Homo sapiens: one gene and its partners. The protein of the gene in region 4 purifies or fractionates together with the protein of the main gene of each other region. This does not show direct contact. Each region holds a gene or a part of one and is shown on either strand. Other genes may lie near its edges.

Evidence for each region.
Region 1: the proteins of CSNK1E (region 4) and FAM83H purify together in Homo sapiens (affinity purification with mass spectrometry; 6 studies listed by BioGRID and IntAct, with this or other methods). This does not show direct contact.
Region 2: the proteins of CSNK1E (region 4) and SNX24 purify together in Homo sapiens (affinity purification with mass spectrometry; 5 studies listed by BioGRID and IntAct, with this or other methods). This does not show direct contact.
Region 3: the proteins of CSNK1E (region 4) and GAPVD1 purify together in Homo sapiens (affinity purification with mass spectrometry; 6 studies listed by BioGRID and IntAct, with this or other methods). This does not show direct contact.

Annotation. Positions count from the first base shown.
Region 1 is NC_000008.11:143,730,753-143,738,092, forward strand, and holds the start of FAM83H (protein FAM83H), read right to left. Parts: upstream 3,028-7,340; 5' UTR 2,939-3,027; intron 2,402-2,938; exon of another isoform or gene 2,331-2,401; intron 1-2,330. Other genes in the region: IQANK1 (IQ motif and ankyrin repeat domain-containing protein 1), read left to right, coding at 5,102-5,186. UniProt on the Homo sapiens protein: May play a major role in the structural organization and calcification of developing enamel. May play a role in keratin cytoskeleton disassembly by recruiting CSNK1A1 to keratin filaments. Thereby, it may regulate epithelial cell migration.
Region 2 is NC_000005.10:122,995,613-123,002,612, forward strand, and holds part of SNX24 (sorting nexin-24), read left to right. Parts: intron 1-2,595; exon of another isoform or gene 2,596-2,725; intron 2,726-4,299; coding exon 4,300-4,394; intron 4,395-5,792; coding exon 5,793-5,825; intron 5,826-6,327; coding exon 6,328-6,392; intron 6,393-7,000. UniProt on the Homo sapiens protein: May be involved in several stages of intracellular trafficking.
Region 3 is NC_000009.12:125,257,619-125,264,842, forward strand, and holds the start of GAPVD1 (GTPase-activating protein and VPS9 domain-containing protein 1), read left to right. Parts: upstream 1-4,207; 5' UTR 4,208-4,341; exon of another isoform or gene 4,342-4,342; intron 4,343-5,917; exon of another isoform or gene 5,918-6,483; intron 6,484-7,224. UniProt on the Homo sapiens protein: Acts both as a GTPase-activating protein (GAP) and a guanine nucleotide exchange factor (GEF), and participates in various processes such as endocytosis, insulin receptor internalization or LC2A4/GLUT4 trafficking.
Region 4 is NC_000022.11:38,293,421-38,300,450, forward strand, and holds part of CSNK1E (casein kinase I), read right to left. Parts: intron 6,646-7,030; coding exon 6,475-6,645; intron 5,515-6,474; coding exon 5,366-5,514; intron 1,115-5,365; coding exon 922-1,114; intron 829-921; coding exon 689-828; intron 1-688. Other genes in the region: TPTEP2-CSNK1E (casein kinase I), read right to left, coding at 689-828, 922-1,114, 5,366-5,514, 6,475-6,645.

The DNA of each region.
Region 1 (7,340 bases), on a different chromosome or scaffold from region 4:
GCTCACAGAGAGCAACCCAGACCCTAGGATGCCCCTAGCTGAGGGGACACTGGCAGAGGGCTGGGGCACAGGTATCCCAGCCCTGTCTCTCCTTTCTCTGGGAGGCTGAGGCAGGAGGACTGCTTGAAGCCAGGAGTTTGAAACCAGCCTGGGCAACACAGCAAGACCCCATCTCTACAAAAAATTTTAAACATTAGGCAGGCATGGTGGCGTGCACACATAGTCCCAGGCACTTGGGAAGCTGAGACAGAAGGATTGTTTGAGCCCAGGAGTTGGAGGCTGCTGTGAATTATGATTGTGACACTGCACTCCTGCCTGGGTGACAGAGTGAGACCACATCACTACAAAAAATAAAAATAAAACGAACCCCCCCCCCCAAATATTTCATGACTGTTGGCTTAAAGACAAACAATCCAGGCTGCATTCATCATTATAATATTCACTTTTTTCTTATTTTAAGACATTCACGGACCCCTGGCACTGTGCCTACTGGACAAGCTGGTGCCGCCCATGCTGCCCATGTGTCCGTCTCTGACTGCCTGGGAGACTGTGGGTAGGTCACTGCACCTCTCTGGCCTACCTCTACTGCACAACACAGCTGAGGGTCCACATGACACCACGCCTAGCCCAAGGTGAGCGCAGCAAACAGGGCTGTGACTACCCTCCTCCTGGAATGGCAACCTTAAGCCCCACACATAGTCCCGGGCCACACCTCCTCCCCATCCTCAGGGTTTCACAATTGGGCTCCCACAGCCCATTCTATGACCGCCCAGTCCTGGAACACTGATCCCTAGACTCCGTCCCTGTCTCCCAGCACCCCCTCCTTCCCTTGGCCTACCTTTGACCTCTTTCTTGTCACTGTCCCTCTCAGATAAAACCTCCCTGGGCCACAGCCCCTTGGTGCCCACAGGGCCCTGCAGGGCCTGCACTCCACATCGCCCAAATCTGGCTCTCCACTTGCTCAGAGTCCTGTCCCCACCAGCCCCCATCCAGGGCAGCAGGGACCTTTCCAGGTCCTGGGCTCGCCACCACCATCCATGCTTGGCTGCCCCACAGCCCACTCTGTTCTCCAAAGGGTCCCTGCGGGGGCCTGGCCTCTCCAGAAAGGTGTCAGATGGGGAGCGCCCAGGGCCCACGCACACAGGGTCACTGAGCTACCTGGGTACCTCTCCCTGGAAGGAGAGCCCTAGGGACTGCTCAGTCCATCCCACTGCTCCTCGGGTTGGGGAGGGAGGCAGGACACCTGTCCCCGCCTAGCACACAGGTTCCTGAATGTTGGCCCTGGCTAGGAAGGTGCCCAGAGGAGCGTGCCCCTGGGCGCTGACAGGATGGATGCCGGCCAGCTGGACTACATGGGTGCTAGCCGGAGCCACTTGGCTGAGAATGTTGGGGTCAGGAGGCAGCCGTCCTGCCTGGTGCCCCTGGGGGTGACATGGAGTTGAGACATGGGAAATACCTGGTGCCACTCAACAGCCCTAGATGCCAACCGGCTTGGGAGAAGCTGTCCCAACATTTCTTTGTTGGGGCACCGTCCTCATGGTTGACATATGGGGCTGGTTAGGGCACACCGCTCTGGTTGTGCCAGGGGCAGATCGAGGCCAACCACATGGGGGTGAGGTGTAGGCCTGTCTGGCTGGGCCGAGGAGCCCACTCACCATTGCCAGCCTGTCTGTAGGGGCGGTGTCTGACCATACAGGGCAGGGGGAACAACCCTGCTGATGTTGTTTGAGGGTACTTCCCGACACTGGGGGGACACTCTAGAAAGGACCCCCACTGTCCCTTTGGATTTCAGTGTCCAGGCTCCAGGCTGTGTGTAATGGGGGCAGGGACCATCCAGACAGTGGAAGCCCCCGTGGCCAGGAGCCCTCCCAGCAGACATGCCTCGTCCTCACAGGGTGATGCCCAGACCTCCAACTGCTTCATTCCTCACGTCGTCTCCTTTCATGGGTACGTGTCTCCTGGGCTATGGACGGGGCTGCAGCCACTCCCGAGCCCAAGATGGAGCACCCCAGTGGCCTGCATGCCCACACATTTGCCTACCAAACGTCTGCCCAAGGGAGGGAGGGCGCGGAACCCACCCATGGGCAATGACTCAGCACGAATCCACTCTTCTGCTTGCTGACCCCTGACCTCTGACTCGAAGTCAGGGCCCTCAGCTGGCCTTCAAGGACCCCATCCTCTCCACCCTGGCAGGAAGTGGGGTTCCTGAGTATCTGGAAGGAGGACCCCATGGAAGGATCTGGAGTTCCTACACAAAGTGGGGTGAACCTGTGCCAAGTTCCGATGGGCGCAGGAGGGCGCGGAGGCTCTAGGCGGCGGAAAGGTGGGGTGCGGAGGACGGGGCTCACAGACCGGAAGTCGCTCAGTGATAACTTGCGGAGTGGGCACCCCAGCCCCCAACGGGGTCAGTGCACCCTACGAGCTCGCGGCTGCGGCCGCTGGGTGCCCTATCCGCCCACCCCAGCCCAGGAACGTGGGCGCGAGGGGCAGCACTCCCATCACTCGCCCTGCTCGCCACGCGGGGATCCAGGCCGCACCCTGGCCACCCCAGTCCACGGCGGCCCGGGCGGATGTCCCCAGGGAAGGGTCCAGGCCGTGCCCAGCACCCAGACTCCAGCTAGGCCGCGAGGGCGGGAGCGAGTCGGGACGGCCGGGCAGGCTCGACCCGGATCCCGGGCCCCTTCCCCCTCGGCTCTTTTCGGGCCGGCGTCGTGCGGGGGCGCTCGCGTCCATATCCGCACAGCGGCGCCCCCTGTCCGAGCAGCCCCGCCACCCCGGCCCCGCGCACGCGGCCGCGCTCCACTCCCACCGCCCCTCTCTGGGTCGCGCGGCCCCGGCCCAGGTGTGGGCGCAAGGGTAGCCCAAGTGGGACCGCGCCAAGGGGCGCCCGCCCCCCGCCTCGCCCCGCCCCGCTCGGGCCGGGGGAGGGGGGCCCTACCTGGCCAGGTGCGCGGGGTCTCGGCACAGGGGCAGCAGGAGCCGACCGCCGCCCAGCGGCCTCGCGGTCCGGTCGGTCCGGCAGCCACTCCCTGCCGCGGCCCGCCCGGCCTGATTCACGCGCCCGCCCCCGCCCCGCCCGTCGCTCCTGCCTCCTGCCTGCCCGGGCAGCACCTGGGGGCGGGGCAGCCCCACCCGCGGCGCGCCCGCATTCCTGCGCCCCGCGCCCGCCGCCAGCCCCAGCCCGCGCCCCCGGCCCGCGCCCCGACCCGCCCGTGCCCTGCGGCCGCGCGCCCGGAGACCCCGGCCCAGCGCCGCCGGAGACCGTGAGGCCCGCACTTCAAAGACCCCGACCCCCGGGAGCCCAACTGTTGACCCAAGGCTCAAAGTTCCCAGCCTGACCCCTGACCCTCGCCCCGGAAGTCGGGGTGACTCGGAAGTTCCGGCTCAGTCGCTAGGAAACGAGCGAGCCCGACGCCAGGGGCGGAGCTCTGGCCTCCTCGCCGAGTTGGGGGAGGCAGGTGCGACAGGTGAGGACGGTGGGGCGGCGTCGAGCCCCGGGCGGGGCCGGGTCTGGGAGCCCCGAGAGCACAGGGGATCCCCTCACCACACACCGGTCTCCCACCGCACCAGCGCCCCACACGTAGACGAGGACCCCGCCCACACAGAGGACCCCCAGACCCCAACCCCCACCACACACACTGATGCCCACAAGTACCTGGGGTCCCCCATCTTTCTCCCTCACCCCCTCACACCGATGCCCACACTTGTAGGGGACTCTGCCGCAGTGACCCCCCCATGCACATGCGGACCCCGAATGACCTGTGCCTCATGTACACCAACCCCCAAGCACAGGAGACTCCTCAGGAAGACAGAAGCCACAAGCACACCGAGTCCTGCCCATGCCAGTCACCCACGAACACGCTGACATCCGCACACCTAGGGAACCCCACCTGCATATGAGATTTCTCAGACACCAACCCCACACACAAACAGGGGATGCCATATTCACACTGACTCTGAGAGCACAGGGGACCTCCCTCACATACGGAACCCTGTGTACACACAGGGACTCTGCAAAAACCAAGCCCCAACGGACAAGGGACCCAGTGTGCACACCAAGCCTCATACCAGACGCCCCCCCATGTACACAGCAACCCCCACACACCACCCCGAGCTGCCCCTGGGTGCTCCAGTCCCCCAGGTCCCCCTCAGGCCCTCACTTAGGGCCCCTCCCCCTCTTAGGCCCTGCCCTACACTGGATCATCTGTCCAAACCACCACCCCTCGCCCCTGCCACTCCCACCCCAAGGACTGGCCCTGCCTCAACCCTTTCTGATGGTCATCAGTCGCCTTTCTCTTTGTTCCTCTTGCCATGTGATCCTATTTTCTGTTTTCAGGGTCAGTCCCAGTTTCATTTGTTCTTTCCCCAAACACTCAGTGCCACCCCACTGGTACCAGCATGCTGGAAACATGGGTGGGGGGTCAGACCAGTGCCCAGGCAACTGTGCTGCAGCGGGTGAGGGGCATGGGGCACCGGGGAGGACCCGGACAGGCTGGGGCAGGCAGGAGGAGCCTCCCAGGGAAATGAACTTGGGGGTCAGCTGTGTGGACTAGGGAGAGGGGTGTTGCTCCAGGGCCTGACACCACCATCTGCCAGAGCCGGGACCACATAAGGTCTGAGGGTGTGGAGGGGTGAGTGCCTTGGGTGGGCTGGGGAGCAGGCTCAGGGGTGGGCTGGCTTCCCAGGGCAGTGGAGAGGCATGGAGGCTTCAGCAGAGAGGGCCATGCTCATGATTACGGTGAGAACAAAGACCGGCCCACTGGCAACCCAGCAGCTTGGGGCAGGGAGAAGAGTGCTAGACTCCAGATCCTGCGCCCGGCAGGATGGGCTGAGCCTGGGGCGGAGGGGCAGGCAAGCCACGGCCAGGGGGACGGGAGGTGGCCAAGTGCTCTTGCCAGGCATCCCGGCTCAAGCTTCTGGGCACACACCCGGGGCGGGCAGGCAGACAGGACACCAGCTGGGAAGCCTCAGGGGAGCCCATGTTCCTGCTGTCATCCACTCAGGCGCCCATGGTGTGCCCTGTTCCCCACTGCCACTGCCCCTGCCCTCTGCCACTCTGAGCACCCTCTCCCTGGTCCTTCCCTACCCACCCCCCAGGAGAATGGACAGTAAGAAGGGGAGACCCAAAGCTGCAGCTGGGAAGTGGCAGACGCTCCACCCTGGGCCCAAGACAAGAGCTGCTGCTGGTAAGTGCACCCTCTGACCTCCAGAGCACTGTCACCCAGACACTGACCTGTGAGACCTTCTATGTAGCCACCGAGAGACACCCCCTCTGAGGAGAGCCCTTCTTCCAAGAGTGGCTTTTAGGGGACCTCTGAGTTGGGATTAGGTGTGATTGACTGAGGGTTCAGAGCCCATTCATTCATCTCAGACCTTGAGCCTGAATCTATTTTTTTTTTTTTTTTTGAGACGGAGTCTCGCTCTTGTCACCCAGTCGAGTGCAATGGCGCAATCCCTCCTCACTGCAACCTCCGCCTCCTGGGTCCAAGTGAGTCTTGTGCTTCAGCCTCCCGAGTAGCTGGGATTATGGACGTGCGCCACCACGCCCTGCTGATTTTTGTATTTTTGTTTTAGTAGAGACGGGGTTTCGCCACATTGACCAGGCTGGTCTTGAATTCCTGACCTCAGGTGATCCGCCCGCCTCGGCCTCTCAAAGTGCTGGGATTACAGGCTTGAGCCACATGCCCGGCCAAGCCTGAATCTTATACCCCTGGGGTTGGGGTGGGGGCCTAGGGGTAGCACTCAGAGAAGCCCAGCTTTGGAACACATGGAGGTGGGAAGGGGGCAGGAGCCAGTGGGAGGCGCCTAGATGGCCAAAAATGGGTTTTGAAACAGGAGGGTTTGAGTCCAAGTTGGGGATTCTCAGTCTAAGCATGTGTTCTCTGACTCTCTGCTCCATCTGGGCCATCCTGTGCTGCCCTCTGCCTGCGGCTTTGCTCCCAGTCACCTTCTCCATAGTCACTTCCAGGTTGGATGGTGACAGCTCACCTGGGCTGGGTTTTCCTGTGGGTCAGGAAGGAGACTTCCCCCAGTACCCTCCCCCACCCCAGCCCCGCCTTCACTGTTGTCACTCCCTTGCTCCAGCTCCCATTTATTCTCTATGCTGGCTGTGAACACATTCCAGGTTGCAAATCTGGGGTCCTTCAGCACCCAGGCCTGCACTGGGGTCTGTGCTTGCTAAGAGAGCACCCCATCCTGCTCCCCAGACTGCCCCTCTGCTTAGAGTGGGCCTGGCCTAACACCCCTGGTTGCCAGAGAGCTCCCAGATTCACAGGAGCAGGTGGGATGATGGTGACCGCTCCTCCACGCCAGGCTGGGGTTAGATCCTAGTTCCCCAAAATAGCCCCAGCTGCGTCTGAGGCCAGCCGCCCTCCTGGAATGAGGATAATGGGCACAGGTGCCGCATGCTGCTTCCGCAATCTCTAGCCCTGAGTACACTGCACTCCAATAAACGGGGGGCAGGGCAGGTGGACCAGCAAGGCAGCCAGGAAACTGGGTTGCAGGGGTGGGGGCTGTGCTCTTCAGTTCTGCTACCTACTGACTGCACACCCAGGCCTTCGCCCTGCACCGCAGCCCATACACTGCCCTGGACGGCTCTGGCCCAGCATGCCTGGGTCTGCTGCAGGGACACCTCTGTCCCTGAACAAGTATCTGCCCTCAGTGCCCATTTCCACCAAGCATTGGGCCAGCCTGGGCAGGCTTGCTGTCCCTTGGTCTTGCAGTGCCCTGTGTGGCGGGCACCGGCTTCACTTGGCAGATGTGAAGATGGGCCCACAGATACCCTGCATCCAGCCTGGCTTCCTGGGCCTCCACAGGCATCCCTAGGTTGCTGCAGTGGCCACCGCACCAACACAACAGTCCGGGACCCCTCCCGCCACCCCATCCAGGCCTTACCTGGCCTTGGGTCTGCAGTGCTTCGAAGCCCTCACTCCGGAGCTGCTCCAGGGCCACGGCCAGCTGCAGCCCCTCCACGTGTACCCAGGCCTGCTCCTCCTGTAGCTGCTGCAGCCACAGCTGCTCCTCCTGTAGCTGCTGCAGCCATAGCTGCTCCTCCCGCCACAGCTGCATCTGCAGCTGGACCTGCCGCCACCGGTCCTCCAGCAGCAGCTGCTCCTGGGCCAGGCACAGCTGGACCTCATGGAGCCTCAGCAGTTCGGGGCCCAGGGCCGGCATGGGGTCCCCTGCTCCACAGCCTTCCATGTGCCCAGCAAGGACCAGCACCAGCTCAGACCCCGGAGCAGTGGCCGGCACCGGTCTCGAGGCTGCCTGTGGCTGCTCTGGCCTGGCCACCCTGGGGTGTCCCTGAGGTGCTGGCTCGATGCTGGTCACGTGCCCTGTAG
Region 2 (7,000 bases), on a different chromosome or scaffold from region 4:
CTTGCATCTGGGTAATTAATTCTGCCTCTCACAGTATTTCACTCTGTGTGTATACCTGTAAAATTTATTGGGATTTATTTCTAGCTTTTTGTCCAAACTTGTCATATTAATTTTGAATTCTTGATGTTTTACTGCATAAATTAGTTGACAGGCCATGTGTGCCAACTTGCATCCAGGAATGGGATGAGCAGCATCAGAACTTCACCACCAGAGTCACTGGGTAATTAAGTAGATAGCACTGGGCCTGATCCCATCGCTACCCTGCAGTTCAGAATGCCCCTCTTATAACAGGGGCAGCATGGTAGTACTTCATCAGCTGTACTCTAACCCAGCAACGATAGAGTGGAAAATCATACTTTCCTTAATGTTTTGTTAATTTTGGGAGCCCTCCACACCACTGACTGCTGCATTTTAGAATAATATATAGAAGACATGGAAATCATGAATATGAATTACTCTCTAGAATCGGTGCAGCAATAGATTTTGGTGTATTAGAAAGAATCCTTTACCACAGTAGCCTCAATGCCAAACGTTTTCAACTCAGCCCAGAGCTGAAGGCATTAATGAATTCTAATAGCAAGGCAGCATACCCTCCAGTGGGATTCTAATTGACAAAGAGATAGAAAACTGAAACAAGAAGGCCAGCGTGTCCTTTGGGGAGCTGGCACACAGCACCGGCCACAGTGCATCAGGCTCCAGGCCAAAGAAAAGTGAGCCCAGCAGTGAGTGCTATTGCCCTGTCTAAGCTAAAAGCAGGTGTTCTTGGCTGGGCTGTCAGGGGTCTGCAAACCCCCTGCCACTGAAAGCACAATTATAGATGTATGTATGTTTTCCAGCAAGCAGGATACTCAGCTTTTATCTGATACTCAAAAATATCCCTGAAATATAGAGGGCCAAGAAGCTCTGTTTGCTCGATGAACAATTATCCAAACTTCAAAATGGATAAAATAGGTTGTTGGAAATTAATACAACAACAATACTCAAAGAAAAGAGAATTAGCATCTATCCATCGCTGATTGTGTATCAGAGATTCTTGGAGACATTTAATCCTCACAATAACCTAATTTTAAGATAGAAAGAGAAAGGATTCAAACTCAGGTCTTCCTGAAAGCCCACATACTTCCTACTCCACACTGCCTCTCTAAAGAATGAAAGCGATTAACCATTGGATATTAATAAAAAATAAAGATAAGCAATCTAAAACAATAGGGAGATAGGATTTGATATTCAAAAATTTGATTTTTTAAAACTTAGGAGCTTATTGTTGAGCAAAGTTGAGAGATTTAAACCCAACTGACATTTATTCTATAGGATGACCCAGGGTACAGCTTCAAGAAGGGGTGGTTCCTTCAGAGCAAAAGCCTTTCAAGAAACTGAAGAAGTTGTAAATGGAACAGTTGTGAGGTCCAGCCTTACTGTTCAGTTTCTCATGAATATGATCATGTGTGTATGAACAAAAAGATTTAATTCCTCTTTTGTATCTCTGTACCAGTTGATGACAGTCATTTGTACATAATATATTACATTAGGTAAATTCTTCTGTATTTTACTTTGTCTCTGAAGTATTAGTTCTTTTCTCCCAAGCTTTTAAAACAGAGCTTAGGAAATATTCCTGCCCACATAACTAAATGCTTAACTAACTCTCAATGCTGCCTTCTCTAAAACTATAAATCCCAAAGTACATATTGGTCATTGTTTTATGGAAAATATTATTTGAGAATATTCGGTGAAAATTTAGCAAAGTAAATTCATGCAAATTTCTGGAGTTTTCTGTAGTGCTTTTGCCAGTATATCTTACGTAAAGCAATGTGATCATCTGTTTGGAGAACTCTGTTTGGGGAAGCTGAGCAGGATTAATTCCCGTCCCTGTGTTGCAGTGTAAATAGCTTTTTTCCTGTCTTTTGTCATTAATGATCATGCCGTAGATGTAGCCAGTGCATTGTAAGCCGATCTGTCAAGGCAAATAAACAATTCACCTTGTTAAAATTCCCTAAATCTTGCATTAATAAACCTAAGTAACCCCCTGAACACTCAAGAGATGTCTTCCTCCATACTGCGGTGATGGATGACACGTCTAAAGATCCTGGAAATTAAGTAGTTCAGGTCATTAAAAGTGTCCCACACTTGTTATTGATTTAATTTATTTTAAGAAGGTGGGGGTGGAGATAAGAATGTTATACCCTCCCCTCTTTTTTTAAATCTGAAAGCAACCACTTGTACAGATAATTAAAACTATTGCCTGGGGTAACAAGTCTGCATGTGTTACAAATTAGGCTTTATTATTCAAATAAGTATTGTATCATCCTCTTAAACAGATATCTAGAAAAAAAAACAATCATTGAAACATGTGTCATAGCCAAAATACCTCGGAGTTTTATATGTGTGATGACGCCTAGAACTTTTTGAGTTACAGGCACTGAAATAATGACCTCTGGGCACCTAAAAAATGTCCTTGAATAGGTAAAAACTGAGATGAAAGTGAAATGATTTAAGGAAATTTAATTGAAATAGTAATGAAATTATGCCTCTGGATAAAGGAGGTTTTTTTTTTCTTTTTATTTTCTGAACTTTTTATTTTTCTATTTTTATAACCAGGAGAAAGTAAACACATACACACACATGGATGGAGAGAGGGACAGAGGGATGGACGGATGAATGCATTGGTAGATGGGAAAACGCTTAGAGAGTGATACGCTATTTCGATTCTATCTCACTATATTCTAAGGCAAGTTTAAGTTGTTGTTTAGTGTGTGTGTTTACTTGTTCATTGCTAGCTTTCTTCAGCCCATGCTCCACTGGACCTGTAAGATTTATCATCATGTCCCAGTGCCTAACATAATAGATGCCCAGGAAATTATTATTTAGTGAATAAAGTATAACACCCCAATTTTTTCTTCTATCTTTTATTCCTTAAGCTTCCATGGGAATGGTGAGCTGTGTAAAGAACCGTAGCAGCCCCCAGTGGAAGTGGCTCTTTAGATGACCCCTCTCCAGGGACTGAACACCAGGAGGGTTCTGCTCTAGTGTGGGACAGAGGGCAGCCTAGGAGGACTGGCAACCTGTATAGTTACCCACTTCATTTGTATGACCTGAACTGGGTAACAGTATTACAAAACCTGATGAGGAATTGGGGCCACTCAGTATGTGAACCATGGCTAAGAACAAGATGTGATATAGAACTATGTATCTACAAGGTACATAATTTCACCTCACTTTTGTTACTTGTTATGTATCTTATGCACCACCCTTACACAGTATTCCTGATCAGTTGTGTGAGTGATATTTCACCACTGATTCTCATAGTTCTTTAAACAACATGTACTTACTGGACAAAATTTACCCATGATAAGTTATGAAAAATGACCCTTAAGAATAGTTGTATTGAAGTCAGAGATTATGATAAAACCTTTGATGCTTTTCTCCTGTGGTCTTTTAGAAGAGGGGGAGGGGGAGGGGGAGGTGGCAAACTTATATTCAGTTCACACACTCTGGTAGACTTTAAAAATACATAGATAAGAAGATACATACTTCTTTGTCAGATTTCTCCTTGACATTGCATAATCTGGATCTCTGATTACTGACATGGTTATGCCATCATGCCAGCTATGTAGCAGAGCTCACTAAATGGAAGAACTCTATAGATTTTTTTTTCAGCATGTACACTGATTTACACTTAGCAGTAAAGTTGTTACTGACCCTTTAAGTGGAGCTGTCCAAATGGCAATAAATGTCAGTTGATTCTAATGCCAAAACAGGTGATAGTTGAGGGTTCTTGACTAAATCTTCCAGTTAAAAAATAATTTATCATATTTCCTAAATAGTAGTGGTCTCCTGTGGGGAGATACACACACACACACACACACACATGTATACATAATGTATATCAGACCACTTTATCACTCAGTAAAGAAAATTTGATATACATATCTTAACAGTATTATTGATGTTGCCAGGTTTTGAAATATTCACTCTGGATTAGAATCTCCATGAAGGCAAGAACCATTTCTACCTGGCTCCCCACTGTCTTGTCCCCTAGTCAGCATCTAGTGTATAGTAGGTGCTCTATAAATGCCAGTTGAATGAAAGAACAGATAAACTGCAGGATTTGCCGGCAATCCCTAGCATGTGTGTCAGCCCGAATTCCTGGTGGGCAAAACAGAGACCACTCCTCATCTTGACTGTGAGGAATGTTGCTGGTAAGAACTTTGATGGACGGTTATGACTTTTTGAAATAGTTCATTTGATTGATCACCTAGCAAACTTCACTTCAGTTTCGAATTCTGTTTTCTGCTTTCACAGGCTGTCATTTTAGAAAATGAAGAACTTCCCAAACTGTTTCTTGATTTCCTAAATGTGCGACACTTGCCCTCTCTACCAAAGGCAGAAAGTTGTGGGTAAGAATCATGTTTGCATATTGGATGTGTATTTTAAATTACTCTTCAATGACCAATTGATCTAACAAATAGCCCAGAGTGATGCCCGAGTAGCCTGCCGGCCACGCCCACTCTTTTGGCTTGCTGCAGCACTCGCTCGCCCCCTGCTTTTGGTTAAAAGAATTCCTCTGAGTCCTTATGCCCATCTTGCGGCCAAATGGCCATGGTTCGGTAACCCATGTTTAGACTCAAGGAATCAATCTTTTCAATTACACTGTTACATAGAATGATGTTACTTGATGGGAATTATGAATCTAATTAACTTGTTATGGGCTCATTTATTAGTGGAAACTCGAACAAAATTCATATCCTGGTGGTACACATTCATATAATTTTAAAGTTATGAATGATCTTAGAGATGATTTGATGCAACTCCTCTCATTTTGTAGTTGAGCAAACAGAGACACAGGAATTTAATGACTTTCCCAAGATCTCTTGCCTTGTAGCTTGCAGAACCGAGGCCTTCCAAGGCAAGCCCTCTTCCTCTACTGTCCAGCTGCCTCTCTCAGGAACTTCCAGTGGCAGGACTACAAATCCTAATCCCTATCTATTGGTCTAAACCCATTGGTCCTAACCCAAGGACCCAGAGGTTTGATATCATCAGCAATTAGGAAAAGCTCTCCCGAAGAATTAACTCTGAAATAAGCCACTGGCCCAGCAACAGCACATGACATGGGCTGAGCTAGCCTCAGAAGGCCTTCAGGAACATCCATGGCATACTGTATCCATTTACAGGGGAAAAAATCATCACAAACTCTCTGAAAATCCATGCAGGAGAGAGGTTTACCCATTTTCTTGCTGCCTGAAGGAACCACACTTAACTACAAGAAAATCAAGCAGGCCACACCCAAAGTCATGTTAAACCCCAGCCATCTGCTGGATGATGGGGCTGCAAACACCTGTCACAGCTCCTCATGAGCACTGTTTACTCAGAGCCACTTTCCACTTATTGCATAACAAAAATTATACACTTGGCAAATACTGTGTTGTCAGTGTGTTCTGTTCCAACTTGTATGTATTTACGGGCAGGTTAGGCTTCATATATGTTTATGTATTTTTTAGAATAGACATTAGCAATGGCAGTGAGCGAAATGTTTTCTCCATTATACAAGCCCAAAAGTAGTAATAAAACCTGAGGATTTTTAAGTAATCTTAAGAGAAATCAAAGAATATTCCAGTCTTCAGATTCCTTAGAATGGGGCATAGCCATGCTGTGGCTCAGTGGAAACTCACAGCTCTTTTAAAAAATAACTACCAATTCAGTCATCTAATAATATTGGGTATTTTTTCCTTTGTTGGCATAAACATTGACTCAACATATGTGGTTTTTTTGTTTTTTTCCTTTTTCAAAACTTTTAGATCTTTTGATGAAACAGAGTCTGAAGAGTCAAGGTAAGGACTAATCCTCATCAGCCAGGAATAGGATTATGGTTTTGCTAAATGTTTAATCACCTACGATGTGTTTCAAGTTATGTTTTTCTTAAGAACCTTTGTTTGGAAATTGGTTTTAAGATTATAAATATTTGATAGGGAATTACAGGAGTAACCAGTTAGAATTAAGAGTGGAGGAATAAGAGCCCTACATTGTTTCATGCAAGTAATCAGAATGTTTTATCAACAATCGTATTACAAGATTTTTAGGAAATCACGTTTCAGCAATGATTTATTGTATAGATTGTATATTTGCTTCAAATTCCACAAAGAAATGTTTAGAAGATGAGAGCAGTGCCCATTTGTTCACTCTTACTCTGCGTGCTATTATTCACCCACACTGTTAGAACATAAACCTTGAGACGTCCCCGCACAGCAGTTTGATCCCCTCAAAGCTAGTTTGTAGTGTTTTCTGTTTACCATCGTCCCCTGATGCTGACATGCCTGTTCTTGACCTTTCCAGCAAACTGTCCCACCAGCCTGTGCTGCTGTTCCTCAGGGATCCATATGTCTTGCCTGCAGCCAGCGGTAATCAAACCTGTCATCTGCTAACAGCTCTTTACTGATCTGACCCTGCACCACATAAACCACGTTTTTAATACAGGTCTAACAGAGTGACATTGGTCCCGGGCTTAATAATCTGCCAATAAACCAGTGCTCTTGGTATAAGCGACACTTAGAATTTTAATTGGGGCTGGCCTTTCAGGAGGAAATGTAATTTTTCTTTCTCTCTTACCAGACTATTTTGAATTAGAGTAATAAGGAAGAATGGTATTTATGGTCCTTAATTTTTCTGATCATGTCATTTTGGCCTCTGCTTGTTTTTGTCCAGATGCCAAGGTTCAAATTCAAGGCTCTAGTCCTTTTTAAAAATGCCTCTTCCCGGCCAGGCATTTTTAAAATCCCAGCACTTTGGGAGGCCAAGGCGGGTGGATCATGAGGTCAGGAGATGGAAACCATCCTGGCTAACACGGTGAAACCCCGTCTCTACTAAAAATACAAAAAATTAGCCGGGCGTGGTGGCCGGCGCCTATAATCCCAGCTACTCGGGAAGCTGAGGCAGGAGAATGGCGTGAACCCGGGAGGCGGAGCTTGCAGTGAGCCGAGATCGCGCCACTGCACTCCAGCCTGGGCGA
Region 3 (7,224 bases), on a different chromosome or scaffold from region 4:
CTGAGGTGGGCAGATCACCTGAGGTTGGGAGTTCGAGACCAGCCTGACCAACATGGAGAAACCCCGTCTCTACTAAAAATACAAAATTTGCTGGCGCAGTAGCTCACACCTGTAATCCCAGCACTTTGGGAGGCCGAGGCGGGCAGATCACGAGGTCAGGAGTTCAAGACCAGCCTGGCCAACATAGTGAAACCCTGTCTGAACTAAAAATACAAAAATTAGCCAGGGATGGTGGCGTGCGCTTGTAGTCTCAGCTACTCTGGAGGTTGAGGCAGGAGAATCACTTGAACCTGGGAGGCGGAGGTTATGGTGAGCTGATATCGCGCCATGGCACTCCAGCCTGGGCAACAAGAGCGAAACTCCATAAAAAAAAAAAAAAAAATTAGCCGGGCATGGTGGCCCGAACTGTAATCCCAGCTGTTCGGGAGGCTGAGGCATGAGAATTGCTTGAACCTGGGAGGCGGAGGTTGTGGTAAGCCGAGATCGTGCCATTGTACTCCAGCCTGGGCAATAAGAGCGAAACTCTGTCTCAAAAAAGAAAAAGAAAAAGAAAAATTAGCCAGGCATGGTGGCGTGCACCTGTAATCCCAGCTGAGGATTAGGCATGAGAACTGCTTGATCCCAGGAGGTGGAGGTTGCAGTGAGTTGAGATCATTCCACTGCACTCCAGCCTGGGCAACAGAGTGAGACTCCATCTCAAACAAAACAAAACAAAACAAAACAAAAAACAAACAGGCGAGCCCAGCACAGCGGTGCAAGCCTGTGGTCCCAGGTACTCAGGAAGCTGAGGCATGAGGATCCCTTGAGCCCTCACGATAGCACCTGTGAATAGTTACTGCATTCTAGCCTGGGCAACATAGCAAGACCTATTTCTAAAATAAAAATGTAGACAAATTATTACATTCTAGGCAGTACGCCCAGTGGTGAATAAGATGGAGTCTGCGCCCTCAGGGACTATGTGTTGGTTTAAATTTTCACCTCAAGTTAACATTTGTGATTCAATATAAGTGATGAAGTTTGGGGGCCTTTGAGGGACCTGGGGATAAAGTGTTTTTTTGTCCAGAAATACTTGCCAGAGGCCCCTTAAATCACTTGGCCATAGCATCTGCTTTCTTGGCTTACTTCTAAGACTGGCTGTGTACACATAGAAGGAAAAAGAACATTAAAAAAAATGTTTTGCGATTCTAAGGCAGAGTAGTTTAATAGAGTATGGAGTTGGGAGGCTGAAGAACTAAACTCTACACAAGGTCCAGTATGAATTTTGTGACCATGAACAAGTAACTTCATATCCTTCTATGTCAGGGAAGACTGAGTTGTGTATGGAAAGAAAGGGGCTTTGGACAGAGTTTACTGTGTATTCATCCATTCATTTAAAAAACAAAAAACAAACATTACATTCTAGGCAGTATGCCAGGTTCTAGGGAGACAGTGATCTGCCCTCAGTGAGTACTACTTATTGATTTTGAGCAAATTTTCACCTCTTGAGTTTACTTTCCCATTTGTAAAAGGGATGAAAATAATACCTATTCCATATTTCCCAAGAATCACTGTTGTAGTGATCCATAGTTCTAGCAGGAGATTTGAATTCCTTGAGTGTGCTGACTGGAAAAAAAAAAGAAAATTGCTTGTTAGTTCAAGTTCTTCATTTGTAGGTGACAGAACAGGGCTCAGAAGATTAACTGACCATTCTAGTTCCTTTTTTACTTCTCACATGCAATGCAGCTTCCCTGAAGATTCTTTTGCAACTTTTGGGGCCTCTCCTTCCCTTCCTCCCTGGCCTGGGTGCTCCAGCCTACCCAGACGCAGTGTTCCAGAGCCCACTGTGAATGTGGTTTTGCTAAGGCTGAGTTCTTCCTTAGCAGTCCACGAATGCCATCTCTTGTCTTGAAATCCAGCCATCCAGTAACTCCTAACTGTCACCTCTTCCATAAGGTCATGAACCCTCAACTTGAAAAGGCCATTCTCTCTGAGAATCTCAGAATGCTTTGTACCTTGGCTTATTATGATGATCCTTAATCTGTGGCAGTTTCATCCTACCCTAGATTGTAAATTGTATCCTCTTGCTTATTTCTTTTCTTTTTTTTTTTTTCTTGAGACAGAGTCTCGCTCTGTCGCCCAGGCTGGAGTGCAGTGGCACGATCTCCACTCACTGCAAGCTCCGTCTCCCGGGTTCACGCCATTCTCCTGCCTCAGCCTCCCGTGTAGCTGGGACTACAGGCGCCTGCCACCATGCCCGGCTAATTTTTTGTATTTTTAGTAGAGACAGGTTTCTACCGTGTTAGCCAGGATGGTCTCGATCTCCTGACCTCATGATCCGCCCACCTCGGCCTCCCAAAGTGCTGGGATTACAGGCGTGAGCCACTGCGCCCGGCCTCCTCTTGCTTATTTCATGCCAGCGGTGCATTGAGTAATGTCTTGTAACAGAGCTGATTGAATTCCTGAATGAGTTGAATGGCAGCACGATAGCAATAACATCTGACCAGCCTACCATAGGTGGTTCTATTACTACCTATGTAGTCATAAAACAAGGCAATAAATATGAAGCAATTCTGTCAATGTTGTTGTTGCTGTTTTGTTTTGAGACAGGTTTCACTCTGCTGCCCAGGATGGAGTTCAGTGGCATGATCACAGCTCACTGCAGCCTTGACCTTTTTGGGCTTGGTGATCCTCCCACTTCAGCCTCCCTAGTAGCTGGGACTACAGGTGCAAGCCACCATGCCTCGCTGATTTTTGTATTTTTTGTAGAGTTGGGGTTTCACTATGTTGCTCAGGCTGGTCTTGAACTTCTGGGCTCAAGCAATCCTCCTGCCTTGGCCTCGCAAAGTGCTAGGATTATAGGCATATGCCACCATGCCCCTAAAGGTGACATCAAGAGAGGTGAGTAGATAGAAAGCAGTTTGGGAGTTGATTGACATTTGAAATAGCTGGGGAAATGATTATTACTTTTTTCCTTTTTTTGCCTGGAGACTCCCAGTATTGGAGGATATAATCATTGTTCTCAATTTTTTGAAGATCTGTCAAGTGGAAGACATTCTGTATTGCTCCAGGCAGCCTAACTACCAGCAATGGAAGGAAATAAAGGGAAACAGATTTCAGCTCAGCAGGAGGCAGAACTTTCTAACATTTAGAGCTGTCCAACAGTGGAGCAGGCTGCATTACTTGAGGGAGTGAGCTCCCTGAAATTTGAACTGTTGAACAGGAAGATGACCATCTGGCTGAATGTACAGGAGGGAATTCCTGCCTGGGCAACAGTTGCACTAGTGACCTTTAAGCAGGTATCTTCCAATTTTAAGGTTTCTAGACTGTTCAACTCAGCTAACTTGACCTCTGAATATATGAGTTATGGTGTTACAAAAATTATTAGACAGTTCATTTATTGACTTACCTAAAATAACTGCATGGTGAAGTTTATGATAAGCAAGATTTTAGAAACTGAGAAGTGGGAAGGCAGGTTTTACACTGAAAATCCAGATACCATCCAAACCAATTAATGGCACTTAGAACAAAAGGGAAGGGAGGGGCCGGCAGCGGTGGCTCACGCCTGTAATCCCAGCACTTTGGGAGGCCGAGGCGGGCGGATCACGAGGTCAGGAGATCGAGACCATCCTGGCTAACACGGTGAAACCTCGTCTCTACTAAAAATCAAAAAATTAGCCGGGCGTGGTGGCGGGCGCTTGTAGTTCCAGCTACTTGGGAGGCTGAGGCGGGAGAATGGCGTGAACCCGGGAGGCGGAGCTTGCAGTGAGCCGAGATTGAGCCACTGCACTCCAGCCTGGGCGACAGAGCCAGACTCCGTCTCGAAAAAAAAAAAAAAAGGGAAGGGAGGTTTGTAAGTAGTGTGTGCGTACGTGTGAGAGAGAAACAGAGAAGAGAGAGAGTCATTCATGCGAATAATGTGTCCTGGGCAACTGAGCGTTGTCACAGAAAGCATAAAACGCTCTACATTTTTGCTTTACACATACTTGCTCAGTCGGATTCTTCACGTCCAGCATTACTGCAGGCGGAAACCAGGGCCCAGGCCTGGTGAACAGCCTTCCGGAAGACGATTCCGGACCCGGACACCCACGACAGCCTCAGGGGGCAGCTGACCTAGGGCTGCCTAAGGCGGAAGTGGGAGCCCCTAGCCGCCCGGGCGGAACTACAGCTCCCAGAGGCCCCCGCGGCGCTGCGCACGCGCGCTGGCGTGGCGGCAGCGCCGCTGCAGGACGCAGGGAAGCCAACAGGCGAGTGGCGAAGGTGGCGGCAGCGGCGGCGGGGGCAGTCACCGGCTAGGGCGACGGCTCCGAGGCCGAGTGGCGGTCCGACAGAGTCCTCCGTGTCCTCCCCCGCATGACCCCCTTGGTGAGTACGCGTCCCGATTTAGTCCGCGGGCTGTGAGCGGCTCCCTGCCTCGCGGCCGGGTTGCTCCGGCCTAGGGCCGCAGCCTGTCTCTGACTGCCCGGCCGTCAGGTCCAACTGACCCCGGGGTCCTGGGCTCTTCCCGTCAGTGTCGGGCGAGGTGGGGGTCGGGGGACACTGGGTTAGACCCAGGGGAGAGATGTGGCGGCGCGCAGGAGCCAGGGCGGCCTGGGGCTGAGGAGAGGGAGAGACGCGTGGGGGATGGGATGGGAAGGGACAGGAGGACCGCGGGGCGGCCTCGGGTGGGGGCCAGAGACGAGAGGCCCGGCAGGTAGGGAACTGAGTATAGGAGGCGAGAACGAAATGGAATGTCTTCTGAGTGTCGCTGATAAAGATATCGTGCTGCAGGGAAGCTTGACAAGCTGGACACACGGGTCTGGGGGCAGCCCACCTAACACAGACACTCACTGTACTTGGCATCTTTCCACTTGCTGTCGGAGGTCTGAAAGTGAGGGAGCTGTTGGTTGTTTCCATCCCTTTTCTTTTAACTTCACCTTTTATTGACTGGCAAAATTGTAGTGAGTGCTGGCTAGGCAAACCACAGAAGTACACCCAGGGTTCTGTGTATAAATGTGCATAAAAACAGGGAGACATAGTGATAGGTTCAGATGAGAACTAGGTCAAAGGAGGAATCAGTGTTTTTATTTTTAAATTTATGACGAAAATCAGTTCTGAGCAGGACTTTGAACTAGAGAGGGGTTTTAAACTGGAGTTCATTGATGGATAGAATTAGAAGGGTCCTTTCACTAGAAGGAGGATAAAATGACATCATTATTTTTATTGACTGCTAACTGAAACTTATTATTTCCTTCAGTTACGAATGTGGACAACAAGCCAGAGTAGCATTAGCAGCGCCTATGACTTTGTGATCAATAAAAATTACGGATATTTTTGCATCATGTTTACAGTTGCAGATAGCTCAGAATATCATTTATGGTTAACACTTCTTTGAATTTCTGGTGTTACTAGACCCGCCGTTAGACATTGTTATTTAATGTGATAATAAGGCTGTACATATATTATGACCATATTAGTTTGTTGTTTTGCTAATATTTCCATATAATTGGTTTCCCTTGTAATCACATGTATTTAATTATGCACTTAAAAGAAATCTGAGAAAGGGACCATAGGCTTCACCAAACTGCCAATGAGGTCCGTGCACAAAAAGATTAAGAACTCCTGAAATAATTTGGGAGGCCGAGGCGGGCGGATCATTGAGGTCAAGAGATCGAGACCATCCTGGCCAACATGGTGAAACCCCATCTCTACTAAAAATACAAAAATTAGTTGGGTGTGGTGGCCCATGCCTGTAATCCCAGCTACTTGGGAGGCTGAGGCAAGAGAATCACTTGAGCCCGGGAGGTGGATATTGCAGTGAGCCAAGATCACGCCACTGCACTCCAGCCTGGCAACAGAGCGAGACTCCGTCTCAAAAAACAAAACAAAACAAAAAAACTCCTGAAATAGAAATAAGGTTTTTTGGATTTATAAGTCTACTTAGAAGAACTGTTGTTTTTTTTTTTTTGGTTGTAAGTTTATTCAATGCAAAAGAATCCTCTCCAATTTTACTGAGGTGGCTGACCACGTCCACGACCAAATCCGTCTCAACTGGAATTTGGCTGCTGACCCAGCCCCAGCCTCAGCTTTCTTGTCGGCACTAAGTGGCACAGCACTCCATCTGTAGGTATGTCTGTCAGCACTCCATCTGTAGGTATGTCTGTCAGCTTCCCCTCTTGTGAGTCTCGCAGGTCACTCACCCTCCAGACCTTTAGGCTGAGGCCTGCCGGTCTCTGGACAGCTATGGCGTAGGGTAGCAGGTACAGTCTCCGGGGGGCAGATGAAGGTAATCCCGGAGATACTGGATACCCTCATTGGTAAGGTACCAGTAGAAATGTCTCCAGGCAAACTGTTCCTTCATGTAGCCTTGAGACTTGAGAGACTGCATGGCCTTCATGACATGAAGGTTGGGCACGTTCTTGTCTGCCAGCTCTGGGTGCTTAGGCATGTGGACATCCTTCTTGGCCACCATGACTCCCTCCTTAAAAAGGAGTTCATAAATGGCAATCTGGTTCTTTAGAAGAACATTTGAATCATTGAAGGCAGACAGGATGACAGTGTAGACGAAAGAGAATTTCATAATCAGGGAGATAAAAAATTTGGATGGGATCAGGGTAGTCTTTTGTTTTGTTTTGTTTTGAGACGGAGTCTGGCTCTGTTGCCTAGGCTGGAGTGCAGTGGCATGATCTCCGCTCACTGCGACCTCAGCTTCCTGGGTTCAAGCGATTCTTGTGCCTCAGCTTCCTGAGTAGCTGGGACTACAGACACCAGCCACCACGCCTGGATAATTTTTATATTTTTAGTAGAGGCAAGGTTTCACCATGTTGGTCAGGCTGGTCTCAAAGTCCTGACCTCAGGTGATCTGCCTGCCTCGGACTCCCAAAGTGCTGGGATTACTGATGTGAGCCACCGCGTCCTGCCCAGAGTAGTCATTTTGAAAGAATAGACCATAGATATTTCATTCAGGGTAATGGGGAATGAACAAAATAATCGGAAGAAGAAAGAAAAGTGAATATGTTGGCCTTTAAATTTTTGTATTAAGGCACCTCCCCACTTCCAAGGGATTGCAGCTCTGTAAGCTCTAATGTAAGCCTGAGAAAAGAAATTTTACTGTTTGCTGGTTTTCTTTAAATCATGGAGGTGGATTTTTTTTTTTTTTTTCTGAGATGGAGTCTCAGGCTGTCGCCCAGGCTGGAGTGCAGTGGCGCGATCTCAGCTCACTGCAAGCTCTGCCTACCGGGTTCATGCCATTCTCCTGCCTCAGCCTCC
Region 4 (7,030 bases):
TCCCCACTGAGGAGGTGTACCCCCACCCCCACCTCCAGGCAGCCCCTCAAGCTGAGGGAAGGCCTGTGTGATTCCAGTGACTCTAAGATGTCCCTGTCTGTAGCTAAGAATGTTGCCCAGGGAGGCAAACCTGCTACCTAAGTAGATGGCCAATGAGGGTTCTCTCGCAGGACTCCCTCCTCGCCCACAGGCAGGAGGACGAGGGCAGGGCTCCCACCCACCTCTGCCAGGCCACCTGCCCTGGGCAACTACAGATTCCCCCTTCCCAAGTGTCCCCATCCAAACATAGCCCCAAAGAGGATGGGACCTCACTGCCCCTACACCCCATGCTCTTGCCAATGCTCACAGGGGCTCCTGGGGGCTCCCTGATGTCAGGGAGCAGCAACACCTCATCTCTGAGCCCCTGCTGCCCACCCTGGCTGGGCCCCTGGCAGCGAGGACTGGAGCCCAGCTGTGCCACTTGCCAGGGAATGTTACTGCCCTGAGCCTTGGTGAATGACTTTGCTCAAGAGGGCTCATCAGACCTCAGAGGATTAAATGAGGCCAAGTCCTGGCTCTACAGAAGGGGTTCACTCCAAGGCAAGCAGCGTCGATGGAAAGGGAAGAACAGAGCCACGGCCTGACCTCCCACTGGGGGGTCTCTAACTCAGTTCTGAGGCCCAGAGGGACTGGCAGGGGGGCAGCTCACCTGTGAGGCTGGGATCCGGGAGACCTCTTGCCGCCCAGTGAGGTCTGAGGAGGAGACGTTGGCGGGCGCACCCCTGTGCAGCCTCATACTCACCTTCCTCTCCCGGTCGACCCGCGAGATCGCTCTGGGAGAAGTATTGCCTGGAGGGAGAGTGGGAAGCCACCCTCAGAGTAGGCACAAACAGAGCCCCCCACCCACCCTGAACCCAGCCCACTGCCTGAGTCCCTGCTCACCAGCCGGCTGGATGCGGGAGGCTGGCGTGGAAGCCACGGGCTCGGCGGCACTGCGGAGCCGGTTGGCAGTGGCCCCCGTGGGTGGGCCAGGGGGCAGGGCTCGGGTCGCGGACCCCCGTAGCTGCCCCATCCTCTCCTCGCGTTCGTGTTCTCGCCGCTCCCGGTCCACATCCTCGGGATTCCGGGCTGCACCCTGCAGGGATGCAAGAAAAGACACCAGTCAGCCCCAGAGGCCAGGGTGCTCTGGGCCCAGCAGCCCTGCAGGGCACAGAAGGGGAGGGAGGCCAGGTGGATATCTCAGAAACCTTCTGCTCCAGCCTCCCTGACAAGCGCGGGAAGCCAAGACCCACAATCACACAGCACAGAGACACGAAGCCACACAACCACCAGAGGAAGGAGAAAGCAGGAGTCTGGGGGCAGAGGGAGGTCAGTCTGCCCTGCTCTCCTGGGATGGAGCCAGAGAAAGGACAACTAATGCGCCCAGGATGATCAAGAGCACCTCTTGGCCCTCCTGACCTGGGGCTGGGCCTGCCCTGGCCCCCCTCTGTGTACCAAGAGCCCTTAACTACTCAAGGTTGCTAAACCGAGCAGGAAAGCTGTTTAGAGGCCTCTAGCAGACTGGCTAGGGGTGTCCAGAGGGGGAAAAGAACAGGCCCAGAGTCACAAAACTAGTGGAAGGCTGGGCTAGGACTCAGACCAGCTCTCCCGGTACCTAGCCAGGGGCTCTTCTCATCAGGGAGCTGTCCTTCCCCCTGCCGGGACCTGGCAATGGCTTCTGGCAGGTGCAGTGGAGGCCACAGCCAGGAGGCCCAGGGAACCCACAGACACCGCCTGCCTTGGGACAGAAGCTCAAGGGGAGCTGGAGAAGAAAATGGGGCCACGTTCCCCACGGAGGAAGAAGAGGCCCAGCAGGCAAAGCTGGAGCAGAAGGGGTACCCTAAGCCCCCAGGTGCCCTGCTGTCCAGCCACTGCCGCCCCTGGTGCAGGAGGAAGTGAGAAGGGGCCAGAGAAGAGCATATGTGGGGGCAGCGCCCGACTGCGTTACCTAGTTCATCCTGGGGCCGTCCACAGGGAAGGGCAGGGGGCTGGCAGGAAGGGGGCCGCATCTGTGGAGGAGAGAGCTCTGGGCTGAGTTGGGGGCCTGCTCATGGGCACAGGGTGTGGTTCCTGCAACCCATGTCTCTCCCAGGAGACTGGCCAAGAGGTGGGGGTGGGCCCTGTCTTTAAGCAACTCCAGGAAGTAGTGGCTAGGACCAGAATGATCCCTGAATCTTAGTGAGGCACCAAGGCCCAGAGAGGCCTTGTGACCTGCCCGGGGTTGCACAGCTCAGGGCAGAGCTAGGGTCTGAACCCAGGCCTCTGCCACCTAGTCCCACTCTGCTCTCTGCACCCCAAGAGGTCACTGTTCAGAGTCTTGCCTTAGAACACTCTAGAAGATGCATCTTCCCATCCTCCCACCCAGAAGCCTCTCAGGCAGGCCTGGGACCACCGGGGCTCTAACTCCTGACCTCCGGTCCTCACCCTGGGCTCCCACTCGGTTGCAGGCTGGCCAACAGTGACTCAGCCAGAGCCACAGCAAAGCCTGGGGAGGAACACGAGCTGTGGCACCTCCGTGCCGAACCTTCTGCGGGCAGAGTCACATCAACCCTGTGAGGCAGGTCAATCTCATTTCCATGCTTGGGATACAGAGGCTGAGTGACTCACTCCAAGGTGTGGAGCCCTGCAGCCAGCAGCCAAGCAGAGGGCTGGAGCCCCTGCCCTTTGTGAGCCCAGCAGGCTCAGGCCATTGCCAGCCCCGAGGCAAGAAGTGGGCGACTCTCCATGGTCCCATCCAACCCATAGGACGCAAGAAACACACAGCAGGGAGCTCTCTTGGCCTTTATTGCCCATAGAAAACATAAAAGGTCAGCAAAGTCACACGAGCATCCACCCGTCATCATATGGACCTCTGTCCTTGGCTGTGTTGAATTCCTTCCCGGCCAGCTGACTGGACCTCGGAACACAGTGGCTGTATGTGCTGAGAGTGGCTTCCAGGCCCCAGGGATCCACAGATCCCAGCACCCCGGTGCAGCCAACAACACAGGGTGTCCTGTCTACTGTTGGGTAGCATGGGAAGGGCCTGGCCTCAGGGTGAAGGTTCCCATTGCATGTTTTCCAGGTGCTTCTGCCAGGGGACTGCTGGAGGTGGTTCAGCTCACTACAGTGGCCGTGGCATTGAGTCAGAGATTGGCAAAGGATAAGGCTGTGGGTGCCTCTGCCCAGCTTCTAACTCCAGGGCCTGCCTCAAGAGGGACTTCCAGGAAGGCGGTCAGACCAGCAGCAGTGGGTGGAGAGGTGCTCCTGGCCTGGTTGGAAAAGAGATCTTGCTGGCTAGACAGTCTTGTGAGACTCCATAAGGGAGGAACCTAGAGCAGTGATGTCCACAGAACGTTCTGGATGAAGGAAATGGTCCCATCTGCCTTGCCGGATGTGGTGGCCACTGGAGGGCAGTGGCATGATCTCAGCTCACTCCAATCTCTGCCTCCTGGGTTCAAGCGATTCTCCTGCCTCAGCCTCCCAAGCAGCTGGGATTACAGGAACACACCACCATGCCCAGCTAATTTTTGTGTTTTTAGTAGAAATGGGTTTCACCATGTTGGCCAGGCTGGTCTTAAACTCCTGACCTCAAGTCATCCGCCCTCTATGGCCTCCCAAAGTGCTGGGATTACAGGCATGAGCCACCAGGCCTGGCCGACATTTCCAGTCTTGATTAATTTTAATTCATTAAAAATGTGTCGCATGTGGCCAATGGCTACCATCTTGGACAGTGTCCGTCTAGAGAATACAAAATCCATTCTTGCAGTTGTGCTGAGCTGGAGGGCCAAGCCCATCACGAACCAGACGTGGGAGTGACTATCTCGATAAGAAAGTGCCCAGTGCCCAATGCCCTGTGGTGGAAAGAGCTGGTCCCAGGTGCTCAAGGCCATGGGCCCCATTTGGAGCCAGAAGGTCTAGGGTGAAGTCAGAGAAGACGTCCCCTGCCCATATCCCATTTCCAGCCTTGCTGAAAAGGGCAACAGAGGCCTCTCCCTGAGGTCCCTAGCCTGCGAGACCCCCATTCTCTGCCTGACCTCTGTGTTACTCCTTAGTGAACAAGAAACCCAGAGAGAAGAGAAGCCCAAGACCAATGTGCCGACCTTGGCTTCCAGGAGAACAGAGCCTTGGTCCTAACCATCTAGCAGGGTGGCTGAGGGCCCTGCCATGAAAGAGGCACACCAGGATGAAGCAAGAGGAGGTGTTTAATGAGTTCTGGTTCAACACAGAGGCCGCCAACGGGGTCTAGCTATGAGTCTGTCCTGGGACCCGTTCCCACCAGGCCCCTTGTGGGCAGTGGCCACCATCCCTCCCTCAGGCTGTCCTGGCCCTCAAGGACCCCATGGCAGGGCCTTTTCCACCATGGCCTCCACTGTGCTGCCATCTCTTGGGAACAGGGGGTCATCCCATCCTCCCAAGAAACACTTCCTCAGGCCTGGCCCCGATGGGCTCAGGCACACCTGGCGACATCAGAAATGGGGCCCTGGAGTCCAGACCACAGGCCAGTAGTTTTGGGGGGACAGCTCCTCCACCTCCTCCACCGGCCTATCTGGGGGGCTCTGGGTGCCCAGGGGAGCCGGGCACCTGAAAGGGACAAAAAGCACAGCTGAGGCTCAGCCTCTTGCGCTCACTGGTCAAGTGGCAAATTTTGGAAAAGCCAGACCTCAGAGGATCCTTACCAGTACGTGGGTGAGTACGTGGGCCCAGCACAGGGACAGGGGCGGGGACAGAAAGGTCCCTTCGCTGTCATGGGGCTGTCACGGGGCTGAGCCTGGCTCGAGGAAGCCCCCTTTTCCAGAAGAGATGTGAAACAAGACATACAATTTCACAGATTCCAGAGCTCTGGGTACGGCCGGCCAATGCTGCTCCCCACCCAACCCCACCCCTGGGACTCTTAAAAGAGGGAAACAGAACAACTGCCTAGCCAGACCCAGGGGCCCATGACCAAGAAGAAAGCAAGCACCATGACTGGGTCCAGGCTGGCCCGAGGGGCCATGGTGCAGGTAGCCACCTGGGATGTGCAGAACAGGAGCAGCAGGACGGTGTAGGCAGCAATCAGGGCAGCAGGGGGCGCCGCCAGCACCACCCATGCCCTGCTGCGGGCACCCAGGAGGGACCCCAGGTGAAGCCAGATCCTCCTTGTTCCGACGGGAGACAGCGCCCTGCCTGGGCCCTGCTGCCCATGGTGGCACAAGCTGTCAGCACGGATGAGGCTGGAGGGCTCTGGGACCCCAGTGAGGTCAACCACACTGTCCAGCTCGTACCTCCCGTCTGTCGGGAGCCCCTCCCGCCACCAGCTCACTCTGGCCCTCTGAGTCAGGGCCTTCCCCATCCAGTCCCCCAAGCCCGCCTTGGCCTCCAGGTGACTCACGAATTTCAGCATGTTCCAGTCAAAGACGTAGTCATAGGAGAAGCCCTGCCGGTGGAAGAGGTTGCGGAAGAGCTGACGTAGGTAAGAGTAGTCGGGCTTGTCGTCAAACCGCAGGGAGCGGCAGAAGTTGAGGTATGTTGAGAATTCGGCTGGAGGGTGTTGCAGAGGATAGAGAAGGCCACTGTGAGGCCCACGCTCCCAGACCCCCTGCAGCCAGCACTGTCCTAGCCACCCACTGTCCCTAGATACTTCCAATCTGTGAGAGGCAAGAAAAGGAGGCAACAGAGCCATGGCCTTCCCTATCCTACTGTGATGAAAGCCTAGCCTGCCCGTGAGCAGAGCCTCTGCTGCTTTCAGAGCAAGGGAAGACCTGCGAACAGTGGCCAGGAGCCTCTGCCAGGTAGCCGGATCCAGGAGCCATCCATGCCCACAGCTCTTCCGCTGCCCTCGCCAAGCACCCTGGGGCCCACAGATCAATCGTTGCCATAAATTCAAAGGACTGCAAGAGCCTGACGGGACCTTCTAACACAACCTAAGCAAGAAGAGGAAAACTTCCAATTCCTCCTCAAAAACACTGGGGAGAGGGCCCTTGGGAGATGAGGCAGGAATGTAGGCCGGGAAGCAACAGGTGTAACAGCCAGGACAGGGAAACCGGGCCTTCTGGCTGTGCCAAGGAGTGGCAAAGAGCCAGGGATTACTGCTCAGGTGCCAAGGGCTGTGGGGCAGCCCAGTGTGGGCTTTGTTGTTGTTGTTTTTGAGATGATGTCTCGCTCTGTCACCCAGACTGGAGTGCAATGGTGCAATCTCGGCTCACTGCAACCTCCGCTTCCCAGGTTCAAGCAATTCTCCTGCCTCAGCCTCCTGAGTAGCTGGGATTACAGGTGGGGCTAATTTTTGTATTTTTAGTAGAGACAGGGTTTCACCATGTTACTCAGGCTGGTCTCGACCTCCTGACCTCATGATCCACCTGCCTTGGCCTCCCAAAGTGCCAGGACTGCAGGCGTGAACCACCGCGCCTAGCCCCAGCGTGGGCTTTGTATGGCCTCACCTTTCCCTTAGACAGTGCCTCAGGGGCCCCCAGGCATGTCCCCTCCCACTGGGCTACTCACAGGGATAGCCTTTGCAGAGGACCTCGATGGGCGTTGACATCTTCTTCTCGCTGATCCGTTCATACTTCTGGCGCTTGGTGGCTGCTTTGAGCCCCTGCCAGGGCAGGGAGCCCAGGTTGAAGTACATGAGCACGTAGCCCAGGCTCTCCAGGTCATCTCGACGGCTTTGCTCTGCACAGAGAGTCAAAGACTAGGTGAGGGACAGGGGTCCACTCAGGCCCCTAACTCATCCTCTGGGTCATGCTCCTCACAATGCACCAGGACCCTCCTGCCCCCACGTCGGATGTTGCTCACTGCACGCATTTTAAACAGGCACTGCTATTATCCTCCTCCTACAGAGAAGAAGCCTGAGGCAGGGCCTTCTCAACTTAATTTGGGCCTAGTTTTTCCAGTTCAGGCACTTAATCATTCAATGACTATGAGAGGGCACCTACTGCCCCCTTGCCTGGCCCACCCCGTGGAGAGGTCACAAGCTTCAGCATCAGACAGGGCCGGGGTCAAGTCCAGCTTTGGCATTAGCTAAGCTGCATGACCTTAAGCAACCCATGTTAAACCT